Linked DNA regions of Homo sapiens. The protein of the gene in region 7 purifies or fractionates together with the protein of the main gene of each other region. This does not show direct contact. Each region holds a gene or a part of one and is shown on either strand. Other genes may lie near its edges.

Region 1 (3,500 bases), on a different chromosome or scaffold from region 7:
GAGCCACCATGTCCGGCCCCTGTAGCCTCATTCTTAAGTTATAATTCCATTATGTTCTGGCTTTCCCATGCTGTTCACTTTCAACCCCACATCTGTCCCACCTCACACTTAACCCTCTCTTTGTGGGTCGCAGTAGTAATTTTCATTCATTTTTATTTTTTTTAACCTTTCAGGAAAATGATGAAGAAGCCAAGAAGATTGCAAAAGAAGGACAGTTGATGGCTAGGGACCTACTACAGCCACACAGGCTTTACTGCTACTATTACCAAGTACTGCAGGTCAGTTCAGAGTGTCCGTCCACACTGCTGGGTCGGGTGTCCTCAGACTACCCGCTTGGCCTGTACACTTCCTGCCTGGCTTCCTGAAGGACTCACAGTCAAGCCTATGGACCACTGGCTAAGCCAAGGCACTTGCCTAGGGAAAGATAGTGCTAAGTCTTCATTTGGTGGCCCCCTTTTTTTTGTTTTTTGTTTGTTTGTTTGTTTTGAGATGAAGTCTCACTCTGTCATGCAGGCTGGAGTGCAGTGTCTCAATCTCAGCTCACTGCAGCCTCTGCCTTCCAGGTTCAAGCAATTCTGCCTCAGACTCCCAAGTAGCTGGGATTACAGGTACACGCCACCATGCCCAGCTAATTTTTGTATTTTTAGTAGAAACGGAGTTTCGCCATGTTGGCCAGGCTGGTCTTGAACTCCTGGCCTCAGGTGATCTGCCTTGCCTTGGCCTCCTGAAGTGCTGGGATACAGGTGTGAGCCACCACGCCCAGCCGTGGCCTCCATATTTTCATCTTTATTCCATATTATGTAAAACGACGCTGGGAGCCCTCACAAATATAGATTAGCAACTCCTCCCATCTTCTCAGTGCTCTCTTTTATTAAATGCTTTATTGAATTCCTAGTGTAGGTGTTCTGGAACCTCAGAGAAAAACATTTTTTCTTATTTGGAAAACAAGATGGTTGGACTGGAGATCATTAACATCCCTTTTTACTCAAAATGTCGCCTCCTTATTCTCCTTGATACTTAAGATTCATGCCTTTTATAGTACAAGGCAGAATGCAAATATTTAGCTTGCTGTAGCAAACAAACTAATGAGAAATATGTATAACAGTTCTAACACCTTAGGGCTGAATCCTGAAGTATAGTGTTTATTGGGAATCCGAGGATTGGTCTTTTGAGTAACTACCTTGAGTTTTACTCAGAAAAATCTAGACAGGAAGAATAAAAAAAGGAAATTATGTTCTTGTTTTTAACCTAAATTTATTTTTCTGTAGGCATAGTAAAAGTAAATTTCCCTAGATGCTTGTGGATACTACCCTCTCATATTTTCATTTTCATAGAAAAATAAAAATGATAAGTTACACTATTTACTAGAAGCAGCCCTTCCTTCCCTTAAATTGGTCTGTCCCCTCTGTTGGTCTAGCTTTAATCGTTAAACAGTTTTTTTAACAATTTCTTGGCCGGGTGCAGTGGCTCACACCTGTAATCCCAGCACTTTGGGAGGTCGAGGAGGGTGGATCACCTGAGGTCAGGAGTTCAAGACCAGCCTGGCCATCATGGTCAAACCCCGTCTCTACTAAAAATACAAAATTAGCCAGGTGTGGTGGCACATGCCTGTAATCTCAACTACTCAGGAGGCTGAGGCAGGAGAATCGCTTGAACCTGGGAGGCAGAGGTTGCAGTGAGCCTAGATTGCACCACTGCACTCCAGCCTGGGCAACAAGAGCAAAATGCATCTAAAAATATATATATTTCTTACTCGGTCACCTAGGCTGGAGTGCAGTGGCATGATCACAGCTTACTGCAGCCTCAACCTCCTAGGATCAAGCGATTCTTCCCCCCTCCCACCTCAGCCTCCCACTAGTAGCTGGGACTACACCACCACACTCAGCTAATTTATTTATTTTTTTTAGAAACAAGCTCTTGCCGTGTTTCCCTGGTTCCTCAAGTGATTCTCCAGCCTCAGCCTCCCAAATAGTTTCAATTTTAATGTTAGGAATTTCTCTCTCTAAAATATTAATTAGGCTTATCTACTGTGTCAACATTTTGTTGCATTTGGTCCAGTACCAGGAATATACAGCAAAAGGGACATGGAATCATTGAATTGAAATATCCAATTTATGTCTGGGCAGGGTGGCTCATGCCTGTAGTCCCAGCACTTTGGGAGGCTGAGGTAGGCAGATTGCTTGAGTCCAGGAGTTGAAGACCAGGCTGTGCAACATGGTGAAACGCCATCTCTACAAAAAATGAAAAAAATTAGCTGGGCATGGTGGTACGCGCCTGTAGTCCCAGCTACTTAGGAGACTGAGGTGTAAGGATCACTTGAGCCTAGGATGTTGGAGGCTGCAGTGAGCCAAGATCACGCCACTGCACTCCAGCCTCAGTGACAGAGTAAGACCGTGTCTCAAAAAAAAAAAAAAACAAAAACAAAAAAAACTCCATTTATAGAAATATTTCACTCAGGGCCACAGTGGAGGAACATTACACAGACCTGTTGCCATTCAAAAATGCGTGTGACTATAGGCCTAAAAGAAAGAATGTGTGAGACTGCCAACTTTTCAGATGGTTATCTTGTTTGTTTGCTGGCTTGAGTATTCAACAAAGTTAATTATTCAATAACAAGTGGAAAATAAATGCTGAGAGCTGCTGTTTGTTTCAGGTAGGGACGTCTGGCTTGGCATCCCTTTTGTAGAGGCTTCCAACCAACACATAAAATTGTGGATTGGGGTTTCTTGCTAGATTATGAATTATAACTAGTGCCTGTGATAGCTAAAGTTAAAATGTAACTTTAGGACTGGAATAAACCAGACCTTTGGTTTTAGTCTGCAGACACACAGCAACTAGAAAAGATGGCGTGACTGCGGATGGGAGTGGGTGGGGGAGTCAACAGAATGCAGTGTGAACTAACCTTTCAGTTCCCTTTAAACCCACGTTTCAGAAATATGCCGAGCGCCAGTCCAGCAAACCCGAAGTACGTGATGGAATGGAACTTGTTCCTCAGCCAGAAGATAGCACAGCCATCTGCCAGTGCCACAGGAAAAAGCCTTCAAGAGAAGAACTTTGAGTCAGCCCAGAATCACACTCCTGTGTATCCCGGCTACACTTTAAGGAAAGATTGAATCTAAGCTGTGAAGGACAGTATAGAAGACTGCACCAAGTGGACTAGTTCTCCCGGTGGCTTTATATATGTAGATGGATATAGCAGTACTGGTTGAGTATCCCTCATCTGAAATGCTTAGGACCAGGAGTGTTTCAGGCTTCAGATTTTTTAAGATTTGGGAATATTTGCATGTACATAATGAGGTATCTTGGGGATGAGATCCAAGTCTAAACACAAAATTCATTTATATTTTATATATACCTTGTTCACATACCCTGAAGGTAATTTTATATAATATTTTTAATAATTTGTGCATGAAACAAAGTTTGTATACATTGAACTGTCAGAAAGCAAAGGTGTCACTATCTTAGCGACCCAAGTGGTGGTGTCAGCACTCAAAAAGTTT
Region 2 (3,500 bases), on a different chromosome or scaffold from region 7:
GCAAAAATTAGCCAGGCATGGTGGTGTGTCCTGTAATCCCAGCTTCTCAGGAGGCTGAGGCAGAAGAATGGCTTGAACCCAGGAGGCAGAGGTTGCAGTGAGCCGAGATAGCGCTGCTGCACTCCAGCCTGGGCAACAGAGCGAGGCTCTTGTCTCAAAAAAAAAATAAAGATAGAAAATGGTTAATTTGGCCGGGCATGGTGGCTCACACCTGTAATCCCAGCACTTTGGGAGGCCGAGGCGAGGTGTTCACGAAGTCAAGAGATCGAGACCATCCTGGCCAACCAACATGGTGAAACCCCATCTCTACTAAAAATACAAAAATTAGCTGGGCATAGTGGCGCATACCTGTAGTCCCAGCTACTCAGGAGGCTGAGGCAGGAGAATCGCTTGAACCCGGGAGGTGGACGTTGTAGTGAGCTGAGATCGCGCCACTGCACTCCAGCCTGGGCGACGAGCGAGACTCTGTCTCAGAAAAAAATGATAGAGAGAGAAAGAGAGAATGGTTGATTTAAAAAGCATGCAGTTTATATAGAATAAATAAAATTGTTAATTTATGTTATATCGATCTTACTTCAATGTAAAAAACCAAGGGCTCACTCCTGTAATCTAGCACTTTGGGAGCCTGAGGCAGAAGGACCACTTAAGCTCAGGAGTTCAAGACCAGCCTGGGCAACAAAATAAGACCTCGTCTGTACTAAAAAATAAAAAAGATTAACTGGGTGTGGTGGCGCTTGCCTATAATCCCAGCTACTCAGCAGGCTGAGTTGGGAGGATCGCTGGAGCCCAGGAGGTCAAAGCTGCAGTAACCAGAGATCACACCCCTGCACTCCTAGGTGATAGAGTGAGACCCTGTCTCAAAAATAATAATAATAAAAAAATAACCCCCAGGCCGGGCGCTGTGGCTTACGCCTGTAATCCTGGCACTTTGGGAGGCCGAGGCGAGCGGATCACCTGAGGTTGGGAGTTCAAGACCAGCCTGACCAGCATGGAGAAAACCCCGTCCCTACTAAAAATACAAAATTAGCTGGATGTAGCGGCACGCACCTGTAATCCTAGCTACTCGGGAGGCTGAGGCAGTCGAATCGCTTGAACCCAAGAGGCAGAGGTTGCGGTGAGCCAAGATCGCTCCATTGCACTTGAACCTGGGCAACAAGAGCAAAACTCCGTCTCAAAAAAGTAAATAAAAATAGGACCAGGCGCGGGGGCTCACGCCTGTAATCCCAGCACTTTGGGAGGCCGACGTGGGCAGATCGCGAGGTCAAGAGATCGAGCCCATCCTGGCTAACACGGTGAAACCCTGTCTCTACTTAAAAGAAAAAAATTATCCGGGCGTGGTGGTGGGCACCTGTAGTCCCAGCTACTCAGGAGGCTGAGGCAGGAGAATGGTGTGAACCCGGAAGGCAGAGCTTGCAGTGAGCTGAGATCGCGCCACTGCACTCCAGCCTGGGTGACAGAGCGAGACTCTGTCTCTAAATAAATAAATTAATAAATAAAACCCCCAAAATGCACAGCTATCATGGCTTAGTTGAGGGTGCAGGCTGGTCAGGCTGCTTTTCCAGTGCCAGGTGTGAGCTTTCTCTTCTCATTCTTTAAATTAGGGGTCGCTGTGATGAAATTCAAGAACCCCCCAGTGAACAGCCTGAGCCTGGAGTTTCTGACGGAGCTGGTCATCAGCCTGGAGAAGCTGGAGAATGACAAGAGCTTCCGCGGTGTCATTCTGACCTCGGTAGGTGCTAGTTCAGCTCCCTACCCCAGCCCGAGTTCTTGGCCTGAGTTCTCTGATGTGAGCCCAGGCCTGTTGCACATGGAAGAGGCAGAGCCTGCCAACGTGTGGCACAGGCCAGCCGGCAGCCCCACCACCCTGGACTCCAGGCGCCTTCACGGGAGGCTTCCAGGAGCACCGTCTGGGTGTGCCCCAGCAGGGACCCAAACTGCCATGGGCCTCAAGCAGATCATTCCCAAAGGTGAAGGTGGACCAGTCTCAGAGACAGCCTTCCCAGGAGACAGCTTTCCCAAGAGACGCCCTTCCCGGGAGACAGCCTTCCCAAGAGGCAGCCCTCCTGGGAGACCGCCTTCCTGGGAGACAGCCTTCCCTGCCCGGGCCGTCGTCCAGGCGGACACTGGGGAGAGCTGTGGGCAGCGAGTGAGGGAGAGCCATGCATCTATGGGGTCACCTTGGACCCTAAGCACACCTGGTGGTGGGTTCCTGGAGTGCTCCCCACTAGGATCACTTGGGTGCCCTGAGCCAGTCCTGCGAACAATACCCATGCTCTCTGATCCTCTGTGGGCCAGTCTTCAGGGCGAGTTCTCAAGGGTGAACCTCTTTGGTCTGAGTTCTTGTGCAGGGGACTCTAAATGTTGCCTGAGTGCTGGCGAACGCTAGGCGTGTCATCTGTGGGAACGGTGTCATTACCAACATCGCCGAGGGGCAGTAAGCAGTGTCAGGCCCAGGAGGATGGGACCCTTGAGGAGAAGCGGGCATTGGCTGAGGTGAGGGGAGTGAGGGGTCCTCGGAGGCTGGCGTGGCTTTACAGGGCCTGGCCTAGAACTCCTGACCTCAAGTGATCTGCCCACCTCGGCCTCCCAAAGTGCTGGCCACGTCCAGCCTTATATATTTATTGAGACAGAATCTCCCTCTCTTGCCCAGGCTGGAGTACAGTGACGTGATCTTGGCTTACTACAACCTCCGCCTCCTGGGTTCAAGCGATTCTTGAATCTTGAAAATTTTTAAAATTTTTGGGAGAGACAGTGCCTTTATTGCCCACGTTGGTCTTGAACTCCTGGGCTCAAGCACTCCTCCCACCTCGGCTCCCCAGTGTGCTAGGATTACAGGTGCGAGCCATTGCACCTGGTTAATTTTTTTGCTTAATTTTTACTTTTTTGTACAGGCGGGGTCTTGCTATGTTGCCCAGGCTGGTCTTGAACTCCTGGCCTCAAGCAGTTCTCCAATCTTGGCCTCCCAAAGCTCTGGGATTACAGGCATGAGCCACCACGCCAGGCCTGGGTTTTGAGTAACGGAAGTAGAACGCGTTTTGTAGAAACAAAGGACCGGCCTACCCATTCTGTGCGGCACCAGCTCACACCTGTTTGGGAACAGCGGAGCTGCGTTGCCCACCCGCACCGTTCCTGGCTTTTTCACATCGCCTGAGGATGTGGAGGCCATCCCATCTGTCCCAGCCGCCTCCTCCTCGCACACATTAGGTGGCTGTCGCCCTCCTTCCTGCAGACAGGGCGGGGTAAACATCCACCCAGCTCTGCTTGTGTGAGTCAGGGTGAGCTGGGTTCAGCTGCAGGAACAAGTTCACCCACAGCCTTGGGGGGTCTGGCCCTCGGGAGGAAAACGTGCCGTGTTGTGCAGAGGGGAAGGTACCCTTGTCATTTGCTCAGGGGGCTGTGACCATGCAGGGTCCCCAGGGTGGGTTCTCCACTCCTCCCCGAGCCCGCCTCCCTGGCCGGCAGCCCTGACTGGGAGTCTGAGGCTCCTGTGCTGGCGCCCG
Region 3 (3,500 bases), on a different chromosome or scaffold from region 7:
AGCCCAGGAGCTCGAGACCAGCCTGGGCAACATGACGAAACCCCATCTCTACTAAAAAAAAATTCAAAAATTGGCCAGGCATGGTGACGCATGCCTGTAGTCCCAACTATTCTGGAGGCTGAGGTGGAAGGATTGCTTGAGCCTGGGAGGTCAAGGCTGCAGTGAGCCATGGTTGTGCCACTGCATTTCAGCCTGGGTGACAGAGTAAGACCCTGTCTCAAAAAAAAAAAAAGAAGAAGAAAATGCTCCTTAAATTCCCCTCCAAGGTTGGGCACAGTGGCTCACACTTGTAATCCCAGCACTTCGGGAGGCTGAGGCAGGCAGATCACTTGAGTCCAAGAGTTCAAGACCAGCCTGGGCAACATGGTGAAACCCCGTCTCTATAAAATATACAAAAAATTAGCTGGGTGCGGTGGTGCCTGCCTGTTGTCCCAGCTACTTGGAAGGCTGAGGTGGGAGGATCACTTGAGCCTGGGAGGTCGAGGCTGCAGTTAGCTGATATCATGCTACTGCACTCCAACCTGAGAGACACAGCAAGAGCAAGGAGCAAGACCCTGTAAAAAAACAAAAACAGAAACGAAAACAAAAACAAAAAAAACCCTTCCAGGCAAGCCAAGGTCTCTGGGTTGTGCCTCTAGGTTATTTTATTTAAATATTTAAATTTAAATTTATTTAAATATTCTAAATTGCAGAGACAGAGTCCCACTTTGTTGCCCAGCATGGTCTCAAACTCTTGGCCTCAAGCAATCCTCCTGTCTTAGCCACCCAAAGTACTAGGATTACAGATTTGAGCCCGCACATCTGGCCTCCATTCTTCCTGGCAAAACATGCAACGCTCTCAGCAGATCTTAATCCAACAGATCTTAATCGTTGCTGATGGTGCTTAATGCATTATGTGTGTTAGTTTCTTTTGTTGCGAGCACAGTTGGTAGCCTCACGTTTCAGTACAGACCTGCAACAATTAATACATGAGATCCACTCCTGAGAAAGCACTTTCTACTTGTCTGGACTGAATATCGGTTTGGTTGGAAAGATGAAGCCCCGACTACCCCAGAGCATCTCTGAGATTTTGTTCTGTTCTATTGTTTCAGAGCAAGGAAAGAGGGCAGAGGGGCTTCTCCCAGGAGGAGCTGGAGACGTGCATGATTAACCAGGTGAGTGCAGCTGGGCTTGCACCACGTACATCTGGGGAAGCTGCACAGCCTCTCCCGGGCTGTTGCTGGCTGGCTGGCACTGTCCTCAATTAGGAAGGGCCAGGCCAGGCGCGGTGGCTCATGCCTGTAATCCCAGCACTTTGGGAGGCCAAGGCAGGCGGATCACCCAAGGTCAGGAGTTCAAGACCAGCCTGGCTAATATGGTGAAACCCCATCTCTACTAAAAAGACAAAAATTACCCGGGCATAGTGGCACATGCATGTAATCCCAGCTACTTGGGAGGCTGAGGCAGGAGAATCATTTGAACCCAGGAGGTGGAGGTTGCAGTGAGCCGAGATCACACCACTACACTCCAGCCTGGGTGACAGAGTGAGACTCCTCTCAAAACAAACAAAAAAACAAAAACAAAAACAAAAGGCCGGCTGCTGTGGTTCACGCCTGTAATCCCAGCACTTTGGGAGGCCGAGGCGGGTGGATCTCCCGAGGTCAGGAGTTCCAGACCAGCCTGGCCAATATGGCGAAACCCTGTCTCTACTAAAAATACAAAAATTAGCCAGATGTGGTGGCGGGTACCTGTAATTCCAGCTACTCGGGAGGCTGAGGCAGGAGAATCGCTTGAACCCGACGGGCGCGGAGGTTGCAGTAGGCCGAGATCTCACCACTGCACTCCAGCCTGGCGACAGAGCAAGACTCCATCTCAAAAACAAAACAAAACAAAAAAAGTACAAGAGGGTTTCTGGAATCTGTGGGAGGAGTTCTTAGGGTTTTTCCCAGAGGTCTCAGGGAATTGGTGCTCAACCAGCCTGAGACAATGCCAACCTCCTTGAGACTTGGGGGCCCCCACAGTTCCCTCTGAGGCACCTCCAGCAGTTCTGCCTGAATCAGCTGGAAACATGTTTGGATTCCCTTGCTGGGTGAAGAGTCAGAAAACAATGCAAGGAGTTGCAGCTGTGCCATTTGCTTGGGGCTGGAAAGGGACAGGGCGTCCATGCACCCCTCCTGAACCCAAGGCGCAGCTGCCATGGGAGAGTGCCCGGAGAGGGGCTCCCCTCACCCGCTTTCTAGCACCACAGACCCCTTCCAAAGGCCTGGGGGTTTTCCTGCAAGGTGCCCAGCTCGGCCCCTTGCCTTGGTCACCCTGGGATGCAGGCGTGCACCCATCAGCACCTGACCCGCCTGACACCTGAGGAGGCCTGAGTAGTAGGGAGCCAGGGGATGGGGAGGAAGTTGAAGAGCCTGTAGAAAAGGGGCTGAAAACCCAGGAGTCCCCAGCAGCTGGAGGTAGGCGGGCAGTGGGTACTGCTTGGCCACTTACAGCTGCCACAGGAGGAAAATGGGTCCAAACAGTGCAGCACTGGTGAGAAGCCAGAAGTTCAGGTCTCTATGTGAAATTTCTTAGTTTTAAATTTTGCAACTTGTTTTGAGACAGAGTCTCGCTCTTGTTGACCAGGCTGGGGTGCAGTGGCGCGAACTCGGCTCACTGCAACCTCTGTCTCCCGGGTTCAAGCGATTCTCCTGTCTCAGCCTCCCAAGTAGCTAGGATTACAGGCCCCCACCACCATGCCTGTCTAATTTTTGTATTTTTAGTAGAGACGGGGTTTCACCATGTTGGCCAGGCTGATCCCAAACTCCTGACCTCCGATGATCCGCCTGCCTCAGCCTTCCAAAGTGCTGGGATTACAGGTGTGAGCCACCACACCCAGCCTAAAATTTGTGACTTAAAAAAAAAAAAATGTAAGTATGTATGCAAATAAAACGTGTGTCTTGGATATAGACCCCATTGGTCCCATGGGTAACTTTTGCCTGAGAAGGATTCCTGGTTCTTCTGATAGATTTCTGTGTCCCTCTGGACTTGCAGGGGCAACAATACAGTTCCCCCATCCTTACAACTATGACTAATGACTGATATTTCTTGGTTTTAGGCCCCTGGCTGCCCCGACTACAGCATCCTCTCCTTCATGGGCGCGTTCCATGGGAGGACCATGGGTAAGGAGGGACCATTGCGCTCCCAAGGTGGCGTTTAGAATAGTAATAATAACGGCAACAATAGCGGCGGCTGACATTAGCAGTTTACACATATTGTCCCACTGATTGCACACAATCCCACTGCAGAGTGGGGATTATTATTCCTGCTTTGCAGATGGGGGAATCAGTGTTCAGGAAGAGGAAGAATTTCCAAGGCTATTCAGTGACAGAGCCGGGACTGGAACTCTTGACTCTGTCTTCAAAGCCTGCGCTGCATCTGTGATTAATCGCAATGCAAACACATACCCACGCACGCATGCCAATTAAGGGTTCGAGAGTCCCCCTTCAGCTTCCGGATGAGAACTGGGGTTCAGTATCAAA
Region 4 (3,258 bases), on a different chromosome or scaffold from region 7:
AAAAATGGTCATACCCCATCATCTACTAGAGCAATTATGTAGTATTTTACTTAGAACAGTAGAAACACTCTCCATTCCTTTTCAGCTAAACAACTAAAGATCTCACTTTGAAATTACTTTTTTTTTTTTTTTGAGACGGAGTTTCGCTCTGTCGCCAGGCTAGAATGCAGTGGCATGATCTCAGCTCACCGCCTCCTGGGTTCAAGTGATTCTGCCTCAGCCTCCTGAGTAGTTGGGATTACAGGGGCCTGCCACCACACCTGGCTAATTTTTATATTTTTAGTAGAGATGGGGTTTTACCACATTGGTCAGGTTGGTCTCAAACTCCTGACCGCAGGTGATCTGCCCGCCCCGGCCTCCCAAAGTGCTGGGATTACAGGAGTGAGCCACCGCTCCCAGCCAGTTGAAATTACTAATTTTAATCAGTTCAATGAAGTGGACAATTAATTTCACTCTTCACAAGCCACAAAAATATTGACAGCTTAGTAGATAACAGTAAGTGAACACTTAAAACTTGTTTTATTCCTAGGACTTTATTCCCCATACAGATAAATTTGCATTCTCATACTGAATGTAAACACTTAAAGATGGATTTAACTCTACAGCTAGAATTCCATATTAAATTATATTTCACTATTCCCTAACTAAAAACTTTTTTTTCCCTGAGTAAGGGATATGTTGAGATTTACATAAACAGCACTTCACATGATACCGGGATTTCAAATTTTTAAAAAGATGCAGAGTTCACTTCCAATAATGGCAAAGTAGCACACAGATATCAGACCAACCCTCCTGCTGATAGCAACTGCAAACTCTGAACAAATATATTTTAGAAAAAACTAAAGGCACTGGAAACAACTATAAACAAGTGGAAAGTAGAGGGAAGTTGGCACTTAAAAAGTGAACAGCACTGGCTCAATGTCTCATTTTTAACGGGTTCTCACTTGAGGGGGAAACAAAAGCCAAGTTTTATTGGTTAAGGATCAGAAGGCAGAATATGGGGCAACCACAACAGCTGGAACATAAAGGGGAAACCCCCAAAAAACAGGAGGCACAGAAGGGGCAGACTTCCTTCTGCCCAAACTCTGGTTGACCCCTGAACTACACACTTGCATGGGAAAGACTTCCAGCAGCATAGCTAAAGCTAAAACAACTGAGAAGAGATTTCAGCTGCTGCCACCTACAAACAAGACAGAGTGTGGAGTTGGTGTTCAGCCAAGTTAACTGCCTCCTAAGACAACAATCAATTTTCTTTAGAAGTATGTAACAGAATCCAGGGTCATTATGTCACTCATGAGCATGAGACAATCTATGCTATCTATACCAAATTTCAGAACTACTTAATCTGAATTATTCTTAAATTTAGTTACAATATGCAAAAGCCTACTTAGCATTTAGTACTTTGTTACTTAAGTTTCCTCAGGACATGGCCATTTTAAACACCACACATCCAATTTTACAACACTCTTTAAATAAACAGTCATTAACCCAGCCAAGGAAAACACAGATTAAAGACTCCCTTATGTTGTACTTCTCCAAAAGTATATATTAAACATTTAGTAGGTGTATCTAAAATAGATGAAAGGATGATGACCTTTAAAATGCCTTAATATTGTCCTATAACATGAAAATAAAGATACATTCAGGCCTAGAAAAGAAATTAGAATATACACTAGAAGTAGTCATAAAAAAAACTATGACCATCTCAACACGTACTCATGATAACCAGTAAATGAATATTTAAGACGTTTATTTCAGTATCTTCATTCCCCACTGTAATACATTTGAATGCCCACGTATTTGAGTTCCGTAAATAGACTCTCTTAATTTGGGTAACTATATAATTACCCTTCAGAGTTGCAGACAACAATGGAAGCTTTAAAACCTCTTCAACACAAATGCTACCCCTAAAATGAAAGAATTTAGAGGTTAAATAAAACAAGTGAGAGACCGTTTACTTACATCAGTTCGGTTTATAGACATTTGAATCATATCTGAATGACTGACTTGTTTCCAATGTGAAAACCAAATTAAAAATAACTTGATCACTGTGCTTCAAACACAACTGTTCACATATCAAATTCTAGCTCCAGCCATGTAAAATTCAACTTTTCTGTATCAGAGAAAAAAGCTATTTAAATTCAGGGGCATTGAATCTTTCATGAACAGCATGAAAATATGAGTTGACGGAGATATTCCAGGATGCTACAATAAGTAGCTTTTTGTCTTACACATTAGTGCACTGAAACAAAATACTAAATTTATGTAAAATATAGATATAAGAGTATTCCATTTTGTCCAAACCTATTAAATACCTTCCAAAAGTTTCATAATTCAGTCCTAGAAATTCTTGGAGCTGTGAGAATATCCTGTTCAGGAATGTGACTTCTACAAAAGCTCCCAGGAAATTTCAGAAAAAAATATATATAATCTTCTAATTCAAAAGTTGATTGATTTGCCAAATGACGCAGCAAGATTTGCTTCTCTAAAAGCTTCTGATAAGGTCTGCAAGGGAAGAAATTTAAAATTAAAATCCAAATATTTGTGGGTCAGAAGAAAATTTAGGCAACCATCAATTCTATATGTTGTTAATAATTACCGGATGTGCATGACAGACTCTAGCTATATCTTCACAGGATGCTCCATATTCCAAAGCAAGAGCAGCTTCATTTACCATTTCTCCAGCACCCTTTAAAATAACAAGCCAAGTAAATTTGCTTCCAAGGCAAAAACTACATGCTAATAGGATAGCAATTGTTGAGGGGAAGCTTTTAGATCTTAAAAACGCCTTAAATCTGTTTCTTTATCAGTTGAAGAAAAGTCAGGAAAAGCTTAATAGAAAAGGTGACACAGAAGAGCTTGGGCTCTGGAGCCAAAGGGCCTTCAATTCATATCTACCACTTACTACCTTAACCATTCATTGGTTCTTTGTGCTTCATTCAGTTTCTTCACCTCAAAAATAACAGCACCTATTTCAAAAAGCTGATGTAAAAATAACAAAATGTATACTAAAGTGACACAGCACTCAAATATTCTATTCTCATTATTGTTACATCAGATACAAGAGATATCTACAAGAAAGATACATACTTTAGGCTCAGTGGTAGGAAAGGCTTCCCTTAGGAGGTAACATTTGAGCTGAGACCTGAATAATAAGGAGCCAGCCATTCAAAGATCTGGAGGCAGAACAGTCTAAGCAGAGGGTATCTTAAGCACAAAGGCCCTAAAATGCAAATATTTGGTCTGTTGTGAAAATGA
Region 5 (3,500 bases), on a different chromosome or scaffold from region 7:
TGTAAGGTACCATCAATGGGTGATGGGTACATGGGCCTTCTCTGTACTATTTTTTTGCGACTTTTGAGTCTAAAATTATTTCAAAATAAAAAGCAAAAAAAAAAAAAAAAAAAAACCCCAACCAACCAACCGAAAAGGATAAAGATGAAAAAAAAGGCCATTACCTAAAATGTCTGCAATGACTCGACTGGTCTTCATACTAATTTATTCAGTTAAGTAAGAAGTAAACTGTCTTTACTTTCACTCCCACTCTTAAACTAGTTGAGACTGCTTTCTTAAATCCTAAAATAGTTAAAAGTTTACTTAAAAATTTATGTTTGTGATATTGTAAATCACTTTTGACCGATCTAATCCCTGCAAGTCTTGCAAGTATTAGGACTATTATCTACAATATTTGCATTAGTCTCCACAAATTAGTTCACAGTTGGGTTTCTGGGGTACCCAGCTATTGATCTGCTTAGCCTGTGGGATAGGGTAGAGTGGCACGCTGTTCAATGAGTACCATTTTTTACGTCTGCCATGACCAGAAAGAACTGGGGAAGAAACTGCTCTTATATTTATACTTAAATTTAGCTGGTATGGTATATAGAAAAAGATAAATTTATACCTTGAACAATTAACTCAAGATATATATTACCAGGAAGTTAGAGCCTATAACTTCCCTGAATGTCTGCTTCAATGCTCCCAAGTACAGTGAAGACAAAATGCCTCTAGGCCTCTCCACCCTCAGTCCTCCTTGGCTCCCATGCCTTCCTTTGTTCTTGTTGCCCTCCTCCTCTTGCTCCTTCTATCTCTTGAGCTAATCCAGTTCTGTCTGGACAGCAAAGGCCAGGTACTTTGCATCCAGCAGATATAGTTTCTTAATATGATTCATGTCACAATTAGTCTAAATTAATACATACCCAGGATAACAGCTCTTTGCTCCCTTAGACACTCATGTCTGTCACATAGGTCTGTTAAAAGTTTTTGATTAATTCTCCAGCCCTAGTAATTTTCTTACAAGCTAACTGGTATCATTGTCAAATTACCTTATCTGGTATCAATGTCAAATTACCTTATCAGCAGACATAAATACAGCACTGGTTTGCAAATACACAGGCAAGTTCTGCAGGTGTTAAACAGTCCCTAAGTCGCTAAGGCCTCTGAATTCCAAGACAAAAATATCTAGCAACCAGTCCTGTAAGAAAAACTTATCTTTGGGTTTGTTATTTTTCTCACTGGATAAACAACTTCTTCTAGAGGAAGAAAGTGCTTCTTCAATGACTCCCTAAAAGCTCTCACTATGCCAGATTGACATGCTGAAACAATGCCTAGCCAAGGTCCCAGGAGTAACAAAGAACATGTCCCCAAGTGAAGGTTAAAGTCTGAGGAGATAGCACTTTCTTTCCTCTTTGCTCATTCAGACTTGAGCCCTGCAGTGAGAACTGTTTCAGGCACCAGGACAAAGTATCTCTTTGAAGTACCTTTGGAAGCAGAATTTTCCAATGCCTGTCTCCACCAAAGCCTCAGGTGAAACAACAAAAAGTGGTTGTTAGTGTCATTGTTGTAGGAACTTTCTTGTTGTAGGAACTAAATAAGTCACTTTCTGGCAATCCAGAGTTTGCAACTGTAACATGTATAATATCTCTTCCTTTACAACTGTCCCACAGAACTCAAACTGCCTGCCATTCAAACAAACTCCTATTCGTTCTCAGCTACCACCAGACCCAGCTCACAGCCTATAGCCTCTCAGGGAATATTTGCACTTTAAGCTAAAAATTTAAGGGTTGTTATCCAACAACCCTCTAAATTAGGAATGTTTAGGCTGTATGCTTCTTAGAAAGAAGAAATCAACTAATAATAGCAGCCAACCTTTCTTGTATTTACTATGTGCAGGCACCATGCTAAGGGCTTAAAACAGATCTTATTTAATCCTCATAAGAACTCTCTGAGGTAGATACAATTATTACATTTTAAACATTGAATATACTTTCTCAAAATCACAGAGCTAGTAAGTGGACTAAGGTTAGTTGATACCATTAGGTAAGAACATACATAAGGGTTTGGAGTCAGGCAAATCAAGGTGGCTCCGTAATTTATGAGCTGTATGACTCTGAGCAGGTTCTCTGACTTCCCTGGGCCTCAGTTTTCTTACCTAATGCAGGGATAATATGAGATACCCATATGGTTACTATAAAAATTAAATGGAAAATTACATGTATAGCATTCAATTTACAGTAGATGCTTAACAAATGTATATTCTTTTCTCTTTCACTAGGCATTCCAGAGCTGAAGGATTATTAATTCTCAGGTTAGGGCAGTAGTGCTTCAGCTTAGACCTCACAGCATCTTCTGGTTAACAACAATTTTTTTTTGAAACTAAAGTTATCTTCTCTAGAAGAAAAAGCACTGAACTCATAGACCTATCTAGCAGTGATGACCTACAGACAAGAAGGGATGGCCAGAAAAGCATTAGGGCAAAGGAAAGAGGTTCTGTCCAAGAACGGGCACCAGGACCAGTTAGATCTGAAAAAGCCTAGGAAACTAGCTCAGATCAGTTGCCTGGCTTCTAATTTTTTGAAAAGCTATTGTTAATTCCCTGGTCACTGGCTCCTTGGCATACTTATCTATGGCTCTAAGAGTAAAGAAAATTAGCAACAGACTTTAGCTCCTAAGTAGTGAAAGGAGGAAATTTTACAGATACACATAGAATATTAAAAAGACATAAAATGAAAATTAAATATAAAATTAAAAATTAAAATCTGAATTTGATGGCTTAGCTGCAGCTAAAATAGAAGCAGAACCACACAATCACACAAAGCTCAAGTCTTTGTTTATATGAGATTATATGTATCTGAAAAAATTAAACTAAATTATGTACCATCATGTATAACTAATTTTTAACCACTGTAACAAGAGAACATTAGTAACTGCATTTCATTATAGTTAGCAATTGAAATATAGTTAAAGACGAAATCAAGTAGGAAGTCCAGCCTCTGGTCCTTTAAGAGAATACATTTAAAGACTCCCTAACAAATGAATAATAATTTACTTTTAATTTAATAAAAGTAATAGGTTCCTACTAAACAAAAACAAGAAAAAAGCACAAACTCAGATTCAGTTATTTTAAAAGTGAGAGAAAAATGTTTTAAAGTTGAACAACCACAAGATTTAAAATATATTTTTCTTACTTGAGCTTTAGCTCGGTTGTGATCCAAACGAGTCAAGCAACTGAAGTTCTCCTTGGGGATGGATGGAGCTGACTTGGAAGCAGTCAGGCAGTTGGTATTGGCTGGATTACCCACAACAATAACCTAGGAGGAATGGAAGGCACTGAAGAGTTACAGACTATATAGTTACTAACTAATCTATGTTAAAATTTGACTGAAAATGTCTAACAGGTAGCCTTTGTACAGGGGAGGCTTGGGAAACACCAAATACAATATAGCATAGGAAAATGCATTTTAAGTTATAAAAATCTTTTATAAAATGGTAATAAAAAATTTTGAAATAATATCAGA
Region 6 (3,500 bases), on a different chromosome or scaffold from region 7:
ATCGAATAGAGCCTTCAAAGGGATTTATAGGGTAACTGAGCCTAAGAACCAAAAGGGGAAGGTTGCCTCAGAATTCTCCTTTTTTAACTTCCATTGGCTTTACTGCTATCTCTACAGGATTGCGGATACACAAAGATATGGCCTTCTAGGACTTAAGGCTCGGGCATTTCTGGGAGCAACAGGCAGGAGGGAACCCCTCTGCCCTATAGAAGACAGAATTTTAGCTTTTATCTAAAAGATTCTCTTGACCCTCAACCTCAACTCTGTTCCTCTTCTCCACATCCATCTCCCTTTTCTCTACCCACTCATGTCCAGGTGGCAGCCTACATCCCTCAGCTGGCCAAGTCAAACCCAGACCTGTGGGGTGTCTCCCTGTGCACTGTGGATGGTCAACGGTGAGATGCTGGGCAAGAGGAAGGGGAGGCAGGGCACAGGTGCCGAACACAGGCCAACCCCTTTCATGGCATCTGTCTGCCTCCAGGCACTCTGTGGGCCACACAAAGATCCCCTTCTGCCTGCAGTCCTGTGTGAAGCCCCTCACCTATGCCATCTCCATAAGCACCCTAGGCACTGACTACGTGCACAAGTTTGTGGGCAAAGAGCCAAGTGGCCTGCGCTACAACAAGCTCTCCCTCAATGAGGAAGGTGAGCACTACCAAGGCTCAGACCGTACTTACAGCTGTCCCCTTCTCCTTATCCCCACCCCATCTCCCAGCCTTTTTTGTTTCTCTGCCCTTCCTGATTAGCCCTGTCATGCCTTTCTCCCTAGCAGTCTTTCTTGTCTAACCCACAAAGTGAGCGGGCTGTCAGGGAGGCTTTGTTCAGTGGCTAAGACTCTTGGTGGTTTGTATTTCCCCAGGAATCCCCCATAACCCCATGGTCAATGCTGGTGCCATTGTTGTCAGCTCCCTGATCAAGGTCAGTGCCACCTTAACCTTCTGATAGGTATTATCCTCTAAGCTCCTGTGTTCCTGTATCCCTCATATTTGTTCAGCTCTCCAGGGAGACTGGTGGGGCTCTGATTCCTTTGAGGGTCCCCAGAAGGCACATGAGGCACAGCAGGGACCCACATGTTATGCTGACAATGTCAGTATAAGAGACTGCACCACCTCCGTCATCCCCACTCAGTACTGTTCCCTGCCCCCACCCATGAGTCTAGAGCCTAGAGCTTTCTGACCCTTAGAGAAGTGAGCAGGTCCTGACCCCTGCCTAGGACCAAGGGCCAAATGCCAGAGACAAGGGGAGGACAGCACTATTGGGCACTGATTGGCCACTTCTGGGTGTGGGACACCTGCAGGCAAGGGTGAATGGCCAGGCCAGGGCAGTTATTCACGTCACCTGGAACTGTGAGTTGGCCTTGAACAGGGTGTCAGACTAGCCCATCAGCTGTAGGTCTCCCAGGGCTTGAGCAAGAACCTGGGAGCAGCTGGGCAGCAACACCCTGGAGCCAATCACAGCCCCTCCTGGGGAAGGTGGTGTTAGGAATCCTCCCCTCAGGGACTCAGGTATCAGAGTCCCTGTGGTATTGACTCTGTAGTTGACACATGAGTAAGCAATGAGTCTGGGTGAGGAAAAGAGGCTGAGTCTCTCCCCTTGTTCTGTGATGGCTCCATCTACAAACCTGTATCTGGGACCTGCCTCATCCCATTCCCATCTAAGTAGGACCTTTTTTAAAAAATATAGAGGCCAGGCGCGGTGGCTCACGCCTGTAATCCCAACACTTTGGGAGGCCGAGGTGGGCAAATCACGAGGTCAGGAGATCGAGACCATCCTGGCTAGCACGGTGAAACCCCGTCTCTACTAAAAATACAAAAAATTAGCCAGGCTTGGTGGTGGGCACCTGTGGTCCCAGCTGCTCGGGAGGCTAAGGCAGGAGAATGGTATGAACCCGGGAGGCGGAGCTTGCAGTTGAGCCGAGATCCTGCCACTGCACTCCAGCCTGGGCGACAGAGCAAGACTCCATCTCAAAAAAAAAAAAAAAAAAAAATTGAGGCAGGGTCTCTCCTATGTTGCCTAGGCTGGTCTCAAACCCCTGGTCTCAAGCGATCCTCCTGCCTCAGCCCCCCAAATTGCTGAGATTACAGGCATGAACCATCATGCTGGCCAATGGGATGGAGTAAAGCTCCAGCATGGGGTGTAAGGAATGGGGATGGAGATCAGGGATAGGGTGGGGCTAGGAGACAGGATTCGAGTCAGGAAAATGAACGTGGGAGTCAGGGATGAGGGTTTGGATTGAGAATGGAAGTGGGATGGCCCAGCAAGCTGGCTCATGCCTGTAATCCGAGCTACTTGGAGGCTGAAGTGGGAGGATCGCTTGAGCCTGGGAGGTCAAAGCTGCAGTGAGCCATGATCGTGCCACTGCACTCCAGCCTGGGTGACAAGGGTGACAAAGCAAGACTGTCTCAAAAAAAAGAAAGAGAAAGAGAGGAGCCAATGGAAGTGCGGTGTTTTCAGAAGGATAAAAAAAGGGCCATTATAAAATTGAACACATTTGCAGCAGCAGGACCAGACTAACACTAGAACTCCACTAGATCCTTCTGACCCTTCCCTCTGTCATCCTCCTACACTTAGAATGCTGACATCTCTCTCTTTCTCTGCAGATGGACTGTAACAAAGCAGAGAAGTTTGATTTTGTAAGTTCCCTTGCTACTTAGCCCCTGGCTGCATTTCGCCATGGCATGCTGTCCTCTCCAGCTGCCCCAGTGGCTCTCTAACCCCACTACCAGGTGCACCAGCCCATACTAGAAGCCTTATTTCCAGAAATGTGGAAATCTGCTGGCCTCAGAGAGGAAAGCCTCTTGACAAGACCTGAGTTCAGAAGGGCTAGTCAACCTGTGAGGTATTAATAGAGCTTCTTAACCAAGTGGAGCCTCAATGTCCCTTTTTCTCTTCCAGGTGTTGCAGTATCTCAACAAAATGGCTGGGAATGAATACATGGGTTTCAGCAATGCCACGTAAGTCCCTACTCAGAGGACTGACTGAAAGCATTGTGGTGTATGTGTGTGTACTTAGGATGGGGACAAGAGGAATGGGGGAGAGAGAATCTTAGGAGGAAGAAATCCCAGGGGAACTTTGGCCCTCCAGCTTCCTCTGAGTCCCTTCATAAACATTTGTTTATCTTGTAAAATAATTTGTTCCATTTCTAATTAGTACATAATGAGAGAGGCAGTGTGATGGTTTGTGCCTAAGCCCTTTCTTGCCAAGACTTTCAAAGCCAAAAACTTCACCAGTTTTCCTAGATGACTAGACAGTTTGGGGTGTTTGGTTTGGGTTTACTTTATAACAAAACTATGCTGAGTGTTTGCTCAGGTTCAGAAATTTCCTCTAATATTACTGTGAGAAGTTATAAAGGGGTTCATTTAGTTTGTGGTGTGATGTAGTTCTGTCTCTCCAGGGAAGGTAATTTTTCCCCTTCTCCCAACACCCACTCCTCCAACTTCAAGTACTAAATTGGGTGTTTGCTTCAGATTCCAGTCAGAGAAGGAAACAGGGGATCGGAA
Region 7 (3,500 bases):
TCCATGTGCTGATGAAAAGAACGTGTGTTCTGCAGCTATTAGAGTGTTCTGCACCTATTAGAATGTTCTGTAAATGTCAGGTCCATTTGGTGTAAAGTGCAATTTAAATCCAATATTTATTGGTTTTATGTCTAGAAAATCTGTCCAATGCTGAGAGTAGAGTGAAGTCCTCAACTACTATTGTATTAGAGTCTATTTCTCCCTTTAAATCTAATAATATTTGCTTTATATCTGGGTCATCCAGTGTGGGGTACATATATATTTATAATGATAATATCCTCAGGCCTGGCACAGTGGCTCATGCCTATAATCCCAGCACCTTAGGAGGCCAAAGCAGGAGGACTGCTTTGAGACCCAGAGTTTGAGACTAGCCAGGCAACATAGCATAACCCCATCTCTACAAAAAAATTTTCTTAATAAAAAAATATGATTATATCTTGCATGAATTGATCCTTGTTTCATTACATAATGACTTTTCTTTTTACAGTTTTTGACTTAAAGTCTATTTTATCTCATGTAAGTATAGTTATTTCTGCTCTTTTTTGGCTTCCATTTGTATGCAATATCTTTCTCCATACCTTCACTTTTGGCCTGTCTTTACAGGTGAGGTTTCTTGTAGGCAGCATACAGTCGAGTCATGATGGTGGTTTTTAATCCATTCAGTCAATCTATATCTTTTAAGTGGGAGAATTTAATCCATTTACATTCAAAGTTATCATCAATAGAGGTGCAGACTTTTTAAACAAATCTCTTCCCAGGAGAATCACTTGTTTTTTGAGAGACAGGATCTCTTTCACCCAGACTGGAGTGCAGTGTAGACTCACACTGTAATCACAGCTCACTGTAGACTCCAACTCATGACCTCAAGGGATCCTCCCAACTCAGCCTCTCAAGTAGCTGGGACTATAGGGATGTGCCAGCATGCCCAGCTAAATTTTAACTTTCTGTAGAGATGGGGTCTTGCTTTGTTGCCCAGGCTGGTCTCAAACTCCTGGACTCAAGAGATCCTCCTGCGTTGGCCTCCCAAAGCACAGAGATTACAAGTATAGGCCACCACACTCAGCCTTGATAGGTGAAGACTTACTTGTGTCATTTTTTAAATTGTTTTCTGGTAAAAATGCTAACAGTAACTAGGAGCTAAAAGATTCATTTGTTTTTTTCCTCCAGGCATCCACTCTGAGCCCCAGTGAAGAATGGTGGCAGCTGTAAGCACTACCAGCAAGTATACCCTACTGGTTGGAGAACTTTGTTTAAAGGATATAAGTTGTGTGCCTTCTGTAAATGACGATTTAATAATATCAATATCCATTTATCCTCTATAATCATAGTCAATACACAGAGAAAACCAAAAAATGCCAGACTTGGGTTGGGTTCCAAGATGGCCGAATAGGAACAGCTCCAGTCTACAGCTCCCAGCGTGAGCGACGCAGAAGACAGGTGATTTCTGCACTTCCAACTGAGGTACCAGGTTCATCTCACTGGGGCTTGTTGGACAGTGGGTGTAGGACGGTGGGTGCAGCCCACTGAGCATGAGCTGAAGCAGGGCAAGGCATGGCCTCACCCGGGAAGGCAAGGGGTCAGGGAATTCCCTTTCCTAGCCAAGGGAAGCTGTGACAGACGGCACCTGGAAAATTGGGTCACTCCCACCCTAATACTGCGTTTTTCCAATGGTCTTAGCAAACGGCACACCAGGAGATTATATCCTGTGCCTAGCTCGGAGGGTCCCACGCCCATGGAGCCTTGCTCATTGCTAGCACAGCAGTCTGAGATCGAACTGCAAGGTGGCAGTGAGGCTAGGGGAGGGGAGCCCACCATTGCTGAGGCTTCAGTAGGTAAATAAAGCAGCCGGGAAGCTCGAACTAGGTGGAGCCCACTGCAGCTCAAGGAGGCCTGCCTGCCTGCCTCTGTAGACTCCACCTCTGGGGGCATGGCATAGCCGAACAAAAGGCAGCAGAAATCTCTGCAGACTTCAATGTCCCTGTCTGACAGCTTTGAAGAGACCAGTGGTTCTCCCAGCACAGAGTTTGAGATCTGAGAACGGAGAGACTGCCTCCTCAAGTGAGTCCCTGACCCCCGAGTAGCCTAACTGGGAGGCACCCCCAAGTAGGGGCAGACTGACACCCCACATGGCCGGGTACCCCTCTGAGATGAAGCTTCCAGAGGAATGATCAGGCAGCAACATTTGCTGTTCAGCAATATTCGCTGTTCTACAGCCTCCACTGTGATACCCAGGCAAACAGGGTCTGGCGTGGACGTCCAGCAAACTCCAACAGACCTGCAGCTGGCGGTCCTGACTGTTAGAAGGAAAACTAACAAACAGAAAGGACATCCACACCAAAACCCCATCTGCACATCACCATCACCAAAGACCAAAGGTAGATAAAACCACAAAGATGGGGAAAAAACAGAGCAGAAAAGCTGAAAATTCTAAAAATCAGAGCGCCTCTCCCCCTCCAAAGGAACATAGCTCCTTGCCAGCAACAGAACAAAGCTGGACGGAGAATGACTTTGACGAGTTGAGAGAAGAAGGCTTCAGATGATCAAACTTCTCCAAGCTAAAAGAGGAAGTTCGAACCCATCACAAAGAACCTAAAAACCTTGAAAAAAGATTAGACAAATGGCTAACTAGAATAACCAGCATAGAGAAGTCCTTAAATGACCTGATGGAGCTGAAAACCATGGCATGAGAACTACGTGACGAATGCACAAGCTTCAGTAGCCAATTCGATCAACTGGAAGAAAGGTTATCAGTGATTGAAGATCAGATGAATGAAATGAAGTGAGAAGAGAAGTTAAGAGAAAAAAGAGTAAAAAGAAACGAACAAAGCTTCCAAGAAATATGGGACTATGTGAAAAGACCAAATCTACGTCTGATTGGTGTACCTGAAAGTGACGGGGAGAATGGAACCAAGCTGGAAAACACTCTGCAGGATATTATCCAGGAGAACTTCCCCAATCTAGCAAGGGAGGACAACATTCAAATTCAGGAAATACAGAGAACGCCACAAAGATACTCCTCGAGAAGAGCAACTCCAAGACACATAATTGTCAGATTCACCAAAGTTGAAATGAAGGAAAAAATGTTAAGGGCAGCCAGAGAGAAAGGTCGGGTTACCCACAAAGGGAAGCCCATCAGACTAACAGCTGATCTCTCAGCAGAAACTCTACAAGCCAGAAGAGAGTGGGGGTCAATATTCAACGTTCTTGAAGAAAAGAATTTTCAACCCAGAATTTCATATCCAGCCAAACTAAGCTTCATAAGTGAAGGAGAAATAAAATCCTTTACAAACAAGCAAATGCTGAGAGATTTTGTCACCACCAGGCCTGCCTTACAAGAGCTCCTGAAGGAAGCACTAAACATGGAATGGAACAACCAGTATCAGCCACTGCAAAAACATGCCAAATTGTAAAGACCATTGAGGCTAGGAAGAAACTGCATCAACTAACGAGCAAAATAACCAGTGAACATCCTAGTGACAGGATCAAATTCACACATAACA

What was found.
Region 1: the proteins of SOD2 (region 7) and POGLUT3 fractionate together in Homo sapiens (co-fractionation; one large-scale study listed by BioGRID). This does not show direct contact.
Region 2: the proteins of SOD2 (region 7) and ECI1 fractionate together in Homo sapiens (co-fractionation; one large-scale study listed by BioGRID). This does not show direct contact.
Region 3: the proteins of SOD2 (region 7) and ABAT fractionate together in Homo sapiens (co-fractionation; 2 studies listed by BioGRID). This does not show direct contact.
Region 4: the proteins of SOD2 (region 7) and DLD fractionate together in Homo sapiens (co-fractionation; one large-scale study listed by BioGRID). This does not show direct contact.
Region 5: the proteins of SOD2 (region 7) and MDH1 fractionate together in Homo sapiens (co-fractionation; 2 studies listed by BioGRID). This does not show direct contact.
Region 6: the proteins of SOD2 (region 7) and SPRYD4 purify together in Homo sapiens (co-immunoprecipitation; one large-scale study listed by IntAct). This does not show direct contact.

The regions. Positions count from the first base shown.
Region 1 is NC_000011.10:108,474,385-108,477,884, reverse strand, and holds part of POGLUT3 (protein O-glucosyltransferase 3 isoform 1 precursor), read left to right. Parts: intron 1-173; coding exon 174-278; intron 279-2,932; coding exon 2,933-3,058; 3' UTR 3,059-3,500. UniProt on the Homo sapiens protein: Protein glucosyltransferase that catalyzes the transfer of glucose from UDP-glucose to a serine residue within the consensus sequence peptide C-X-N-T-X-G-S-F-X-C. Can also catalyze the transfer of xylose from UDP-xylose but less efficiently.
Region 2 is NC_000016.10:2,245,088-2,248,587, reverse strand, and holds part of ECI1 (enoyl-CoA delta isomerase 1, mitochondrial isoform 1 precursor), read left to right. Parts: intron 1-1,601; coding exon 1,602-1,729; intron 1,730-3,500. UniProt on the Homo sapiens protein: Key enzyme of fatty acid beta-oxidation. Able to isomerize both 3-cis (3Z) and 3-trans (3E) double bonds into the 2-trans (2E) form in a range of enoyl-CoA species, with a preference for (3Z)-enoyl-CoAs over (3E)-enoyl-CoAs.
Region 3 is NC_000016.10:8,765,117-8,768,616, forward strand, and holds part of ABAT (4-aminobutyrate aminotransferase, mitochondrial isoform 1 precursor), read left to right. Parts: intron 1-1,091; coding exon 1,092-1,154; intron 1,155-3,076; coding exon 3,077-3,140; intron 3,141-3,500. UniProt on the Homo sapiens protein: Catalyzes the conversion of gamma-aminobutyrate and L-beta-aminoisobutyrate to succinate semialdehyde and methylmalonate semialdehyde, respectively. Can also convert delta-aminovalerate and beta-alanine.
Region 4 is NC_000007.14:107,918,441-107,921,698, reverse strand, and holds the end of DLD (dihydrolipoyl dehydrogenase, mitochondrial isoform 1 precursor), read right to left. Parts: intron 2,690-3,258; coding exon 2,600-2,689; intron 2,506-2,599; coding exon 2,440-2,505; 3' UTR 501-2,439; downstream 1-500. UniProt on the Homo sapiens protein: Lipoamide dehydrogenase is a component of the glycine cleavage system as well as an E3 component of three alpha-ketoacid dehydrogenase complexes (pyruvate-, alpha-ketoglutarate-, and branched-chain amino acid-dehydrogenase complex).
Region 5 is NC_000002.12:63,598,963-63,602,462, reverse strand, and holds part of MDH1 (malate dehydrogenase, cytoplasmic), read right to left. Parts: intron 3,294-3,500; coding exon 3,171-3,293; intron 1-3,170. UniProt on the Homo sapiens protein: Catalyzes the reduction of aromatic alpha-keto acids in the presence of NADH. Plays essential roles in the malate-aspartate shuttle and the tricarboxylic acid cycle, important in mitochondrial NADH supply for oxidative phosphorylation.
Region 6 is NC_000012.12:56,475,078-56,478,577, reverse strand, and holds part of SPRYD4 (SPRY domain-containing protein 4), read right to left. Parts: coding exon of another isoform or gene 3,395-3,500; 3' UTR 2,955-3,394; coding exon of another isoform or gene 2,896-2,954; 3' UTR 2,634-2,895; coding exon of another isoform or gene 2,601-2,633; 3' UTR 919-2,600; coding exon of another isoform or gene 860-918; 3' UTR 646-859; coding exon of another isoform or gene 482-645; 3' UTR 396-481; coding exon of another isoform or gene 316-395; 3' UTR 1-315. Other genes in the region: GLS2 (glutaminase liver isoform, mitochondrial isoform 1 precursor), read left to right, coding at 316-395, 482-645, 860-918, 2,601-2,633, 2,896-2,954, 3,468-3,500.
Region 7 is NC_000006.12:159,669,242-159,672,741, forward strand, and holds part of SOD2 (superoxide dismutase [Mn], mitochondrial isoform A precursor), read right to left. Parts: 3' UTR 1-3,500. UniProt on the Homo sapiens protein: Destroys superoxide anion radicals which are normally produced within the cells and which are toxic to biological systems.